2 linked regions of the Homo sapiens genome follow. The gene in region 1 interacts genetically with each later gene. Each region holds a gene or a part of one and is shown on either strand. Other genes may lie near its edges. The genes, in order: NUS1 and EGFR.

The links.
Region 2: changes in NUS1 (region 1) and EGFR together harm fitness more than expected from each alone (negative genetic interaction), as found in Homo sapiens cells (one large-scale study listed by BioGRID).

Annotation. Positions count from the first base shown.
Region 1 is NC_000006.12:117,706,209-117,709,116, reverse strand, and holds part of NUS1 (dehydrodolichyl diphosphate synthase complex subunit NUS1), read right to left. Parts: intron 2,193-2,908; coding exon 2,102-2,192; 3' UTR 1-2,101. UniProt on the Homo sapiens protein: With DHDDS, forms the dehydrodolichyl diphosphate synthase (DDS) complex, an essential component of the dolichol monophosphate (Dol-P) biosynthetic machinery.
Region 2 is NC_000007.14:55,022,017-55,025,516, reverse strand, and holds part of EGFR (epidermal growth factor receptor isoform a precursor), read right to left. Parts: intron 1-3,500. UniProt on the Homo sapiens protein: Receptor tyrosine kinase binding ligands of the EGF family and activating several signaling cascades to convert extracellular cues into appropriate cellular responses.

The sequences.
Region 1 (2,908 bases):
TAAAGAGAAGGTTCTGGAATGACTACATCTGAAATCAGAATCCTAGTAGTTTGTAGTTTGCCTCTTCCTAGAACTTCAAGAGACTCAAATCATAGGCTACAGATGTACTTTCAAGTATATACTTATGAATGGAAGGAGAAAATAAAAGCACGAAAATGCAAATATTAAACCTTTACTGGCTTGGGCTATATTCCAGTAGGTAATTTATTTGACTAACTTAACTTTAACAACGATTAAATCCCTTCATTTTAATCAGGTCCATTAAATTTCATTCATTAAAGCTATACATACTCCAGAATGTTTATAAGACATTTATACCTATCATGTTTACAAAAGGCATAAATTCAGTCTTCAGCTGCACTACAAATGCCTCAATATAATATAATCACAGTATAAGGAATCAGAAATTCTCTGGTTAGATATGCTGTAGCTTCACACAAAACTCTCAGTAATAAATTAAAACAAAAAAAAAAAGTCGTACAACGTATAATGGATTATGCAGTGCAAAGTAATGTCACTGGACCAAAATTTAGTTTAATCATTTTTATTTCAAGTGTATTTAAAAAATCATAAATGGGGTTTCATAATCCAAAGTTGAAACATTTATTCTTCATAGCTTCAGAATTTAACAACCAATTGTAGACCATGCTTTCCAAATCCAGTCTTCTTTGCTATTTTTCAAAACTTCTGAGATCTAGTATTAAACTGCTCCATTCTAAATGTATAGTTTTAGATAAGTATTGTACACTTGTTGATAAGGGTTTTCTGAAAGCAGTCTATCAAATATAAAGAATGGTTTCTATCTAAGAATCAGCAGTGAGGGAAGAAATATTAAACACCTATCAAGAAATCAATTATTCATTTTAAAAATAACAGAACCAGTGCTGCTCTCTGTCATAAAAGAGAACATGTAAAATTTATTTTTATAGACTTTGGTAATATTTTATTCCCCCACAGAGGCCTTCAATCCTACTTAAAGATATTTTACACACAGTAACCATCAGGATTTACTGAGTAAAAATCTCAGGTATTAACCATGCCCCTAAAATGTGCTATTCCAAAGAGGAACAGGTTACTTTTGAGGAAAAAAGCTGCCTTGGTAACTTCCCTCAAATGTTTATTTTAAATAAAAATGGTTGATGGAAATATTTTTTAAAAGAACTTTGGGTATAATATGGCATACTGCCCATCAAACAAAAAAGGAAATAAAACTTTCTTTCCATTTATAATAAGTTTTCCACCTTTACTATCAAGATTACAACTTATTGACCTTTTATGCTTGCTTGGTTTTTTTGACTGCCTAATCCAATGTTTAAATTTTTAAGTCTGCATTTCAATGTAGTAGGAGTTATTTTTCAAATAATCTTCAGAACCCAGAATACAGAGCAACTCTCAGAATACCAGAGCAACACTCTCAAGTCATACTTTTGAACCCAGAATACCAGAATACCAGACTTCAGAACCCAGAATACCAGAGCAACACTCTCAAGTCATACTTTTGACTACAATTAAGAGATGAAAATGGACGGATATCTGAAGATAGGTATTCCCTCTGCTCTGAAGGTGAGCAAGATTTTAACATGTGAGCAACACAGAACTCCACTCCTCTGGAGCTCCTTTCAACTCAGAATGCTTCAGTTCAGTAAGTCAATATATTATTCTTAAAAATTAAAGTTTGGTCACTAAGAAGGACTGAACAAAAATTATTCCCCTCCCGCCAAACACAACCAGAACAGTTCTAATCAGGCCCTCTTCTCCCCACAAAAATAGGGAAGTAGCTGGGCTGAAGACTTTAAGTGTGACATTTCAGTTCCTAAAACATCACTGCTATTTGCTCAAAGTTGTAGGTCTATGTATTTCCTTCTCCAATACGTCCCCATTTATAAGTTTATTTCCATACATACAAACGTGCACATGTGTGCACGTGCACACGCACACACACACACTCACTCTCAAGTAAGACACTTTTTTGTGTTTGTTGATAAATTATGAGGATTATGAACTAGGTGTGTACAGGGTTTCATAGGTGCTTTGTAAACATCAGAGTCACTTGGTTCCTTTCCTCCACAAGCCTCAAATCAAATTATGCAACCAATGACCACTACTTTCCCAGACGCTGTTCACAGGCTGCATATTGACGAAGGGCAGAGAAAAAGTCCTCATAACTGATGTTTAGGTGGGAAGGCAAAGAGCTGAAAAGAAAACACGGGGGGAGAAAAGCAATTAGATATACACTGTAATGTAGGGGGGAACCAGAAGATAAGGACCAAAAAGAAGTTAAGAATAGAATACACCAAATTATCCTCCACCAGACAGCACCATGACAGGCACGGAAAATGTCTTAATCATAATATGTAGACTGAAAGGGTGGGGCCCTGACAGAACTGACTGGGAAATAGCAGAGAGCCTCTGAGGCACCGAGGGGTAGTGGCACTCACTGTTTATTGACGAGTGTTCATTGAAGATAGCTATTCCCTCTGCTCTGAGGGTAAATTATAAGCAGAATATGCCAAACAATTCTACTAAGATTGTTCAGCTCATTGTGGACAATGAGATGACAAGGACACACAATGTCATCATCAACTAAAAAATTAATATGCCTCTTTTTCCACAAGAAAAGCAACTAGTAATGAGAGATTCATAACTTGTTAAAGCGTAAGCTCAGATTAATGCAAAGCTAGAGATCTATGTATAAAGGATCTCATTTAAATCCATTAAAGAATTTCTCCTTGGTCAGAGTAAAGCCAATATTACTTAGTTTAGGAAAGCCATGCTTAATGTTGGGCAGAGCCACACAGCATCCAAACATGATGAAATATTGTAGCCATGTTGTGAGCAACCTAGAAATCAACACTTACCTCCACCATTTCCAATTACTCAAGGGCAATTACAGTGTGAAAATAAGCAC
Region 2 (3,500 bases), on another chromosome or scaffold:
GACCCTCCTGCCCTTCCTCTTCTCCTCCCTTCCCTTCCCTTCCCTGCAGTCCCATTGACTTCCCAGCCTTTGTGATTGCATTCAGTATCTATCCAGGCTTCCAAGTGAGAAGCCTGGGTGTCAATCTGGGATTCTTTCTTTCTTATGCTGCTACATATACTTATCAACCAGTTCTGCCTCCTGATCAGCCCCGGAGTCCCCTGTCCTGAATCTTCCTTGCTCCTGCTTCATCCTCTGTCTCTGGCAATAGTCATGAACCTTCCTGTTTCCAATGCCACTCCTGCAGTCCATTCCCCAAACCGCTGCTGCAGCCATCTTTCTAAAACACCAAACACAGCATGTCAGTTCACAGTCACTTCTCTTTCACACAGGACAAAATCCAAAGCCACAGTGAGGATGGAGCTCTCTGTGAACTGTAGGTAGCCTTACCATTTATTCCTTCTCTTCCTGCCATTTGAATTACTAGCACTCTCAAGAACTTTGCTGCTATTGGCACTGCTTGTGTAATGCCCTGCACATCCTATTCTCTGGGGAAATAATCATATAACCAAATAGCTCAAATGAGTAATCCCTTCCATTTGTGGCTAAACGTGCTCTCCTCCCCATGTAGAATTAAAGGCAAAGACTGAACTCAAAAGTCATCCTTTGTCCTGGGAAGAGTTCCGTCATTGATTCTGTGACATTGTTTCACACTTATTATCTCTAGCTCTCTTTCCCCAGTTGACTTCCAGACACTTAAGGGCAATTACCAAGTCTAATTTATTCTTACATCTCAACATATGGATGCAACAGTGTAAATCACTCATCATGGCTCAAACATAAAGAAAAAAAAGCCTAAGTTGTAACAGGTACCAATACTTGCCCTTCTATGCAAAGGGCAAACAATCATGGTTGACTTACGTAATTATTTAAACTAAGTCAGGGCCATGTGTGCTGCCGCGCTAGTAATGGTGTAATTGCAGGTGTACTTAGGGCTGCCTGCAAGGCATTCTCATTGGGTGCCTTGTCCCCTAAATTATAACTTGAGTCTTTTGTTAATGAGAAGTTCCAGATATATTCAGAAAGGACACTTGGACTCCGAGTCTCTCCTTGAAAACCCACCAGAATGAGATAAAACTTGGATCAGAGAGAGAAATTCTACTCCCCCATGTTAGTGTTTCCATACTGCTTGCTAAAGCAAGCTGCTGAAACTGGTAGGAGTAAAATTTACTCTAAGCATATGCAATTCACAGATGCTCAGTCCACAGGACCAGTCATTTGATACTGAACTTCAGGGCCTTCAGGGATTGAAATGTCAAATCTAGCACTTACTTTCTAGGGGCTCAGTAAACACACCCCCAATATTCCTGGCCCCAACTACCCCTCCTGCTCCCAGCTGGCTCAGGGAACTTTCTAGACAACTGGATTGAGTGTATCTATCTAAATGTGTAGCAAGAAAGCTTTATCAGATGACTCTGAAAAAGTGAAAATTACAGGCAAACTAGTTATTTGAATAAGTTCCAATGCCTGGATTCTTGCCCAAATTCAAACTGGCCAGCTTGTGCCTATGGGCCCAATGGAGGACAATCTAGAGATGTCGTCCAAAGAGCCAACTGCTGGAATTTTCTTAGAAAATTCATTCCTGTAGGAGGAAAACGAAAAAGAACGAATGAGAAAACACTATGATGTTTAATGGGGATGGCCTACAGGAACAAGTTAAGATTTACACTCTATTCTCTATGGATTAGTGGTTCAAGAATAAACCAGTAATAATTAACTGAGACTAACAATGTTTATTACCATAATTTCAAATGTCCATAAGTGATAAAGGAAAACAAAAATGGAATGGATCTGAGGAACAGAATCTGTTTTTTTTTTTTTTTTTTTGAGATGGAGTCTCACACTGTCGCGCGGGCTGGAGTGCAATGGTGCGATCTTGGCTCACTGCAACCTCTGCCTCCTGGGTTCAAGCAATTCTCCTGCCTCAGCCTCCTGAGTAGCTGGGATTACAGGCACCTGCCACCACGCCCAGCTAATTTTTTTTGTATTTTTAGTAGAGACTGGGTTTCACCGTGTTGGTCAGCCTGGTCTCAAACTCCTGGCTTCATGATTCGCCTGCCTCGGCCTCCCAACGTTTTGGGATTATAGAGGTGAGCCACCATGCCCGGCCCAGAATCTGGTTTTAAAAATTATATTTACAGGGAAGCAACATGTGGGTGAACCATATTCTAAAACTTTGAAATTTTCTCAACACATACCCCTATTAGTAAAACCCAATGTTAAATAAGCTCATAACTAGAGTACTTATGAAGTCAAAATTAAAACACGCACACACAGACACACAGGCACACACACAAGTCACATGGCAAGGGCCACACTGTGTTGCAGGTGGGTTCTGCAACAGGCGAAATGTCCTCAACATTGTGACCCATCCCTATTCCGGGGCACCAGCCTGGGGTTACCTTCCCTTCAGTGCCCATAATCATCAATTGCCTTTAATATTAGAGTTGGTTTGTCACTCTCGTCAAAAAAGTTTCAGATGCTAGCTGCTAGTCTTAGAGCTTAGATCAAAGAAAAAACAAAGAATATTTTCTTTTCAAACAGGGAGGAATCCTTCATCTTTGCTGAGACTACTTCTAAAAACATTTCAGAACATGTTAGTGCTGTCACGTGGACCAAGTGTAATTATGCAGCACAATGGACTTTCGGCAATCGGTGTCTTCAAACCAGAAGTTTTTGAAAAATCATGAGTTATGAAACTAAATACGTGAAGCCAGAAATTACTGTTAAAAGCCTATTGGAGCTCTCAGCCAGTTTCTTGTATTCTGTGCTACGGCAGTGTGGGTCTAACACACAAACCACTGGTGTCCTTTCCAGATTTGAAAGCAATCTGGAAGCAAGAGCAGAAACCCTTAAAACTCACCCCCCCTTCAACCTTTAGCCCAGAATATCTAGCATATTCTATGCACTCAGTAAATATTCACTGAATTCAGAAACAACAGCTCAGAAGCCTGAAGGGTCAAAGTGACTTGTCCACCTTCACCCTGGGCTGGAGTGAGAAGAAAGGTCCCAATTGCCAGGCCGGGCTTGGGCTTTCTTGATCTGACCTCCTTTGAGGAGGGAGGGTGGGGTAGATCTCACTTTGGATACCATTAATATCCCCACTTTGGTTTCTCTTTAAGACAGCTCGGACCTACTGAATGGGAACGTCTCCAGAAGTGGGGCTGGGCGGGCTTATTTCCACAAAGCTCCCTCAGTTGGGAATTCGACTCGCCTTGGAATACTTTCCAGTGTCCCTTCTGGAGAGCACCTTCATCCTGTAAGAGGCAGGGCTTTGCTCAGCACCCCTCAAGCAGTCTCCACTCCATGCTCACTGAACTGAGGACTAAGCTGCCTCTATGGAAGGTGACCCAACAGAGGGCTGAGGAACTCGGCAGGAATGCAGACTGCCGGACAGCCCGCGTTGAAGCTTCAGACAGGCTCATCGTCATGAGCCGGCTCCCTGGGCCCTTTCCCCTTGC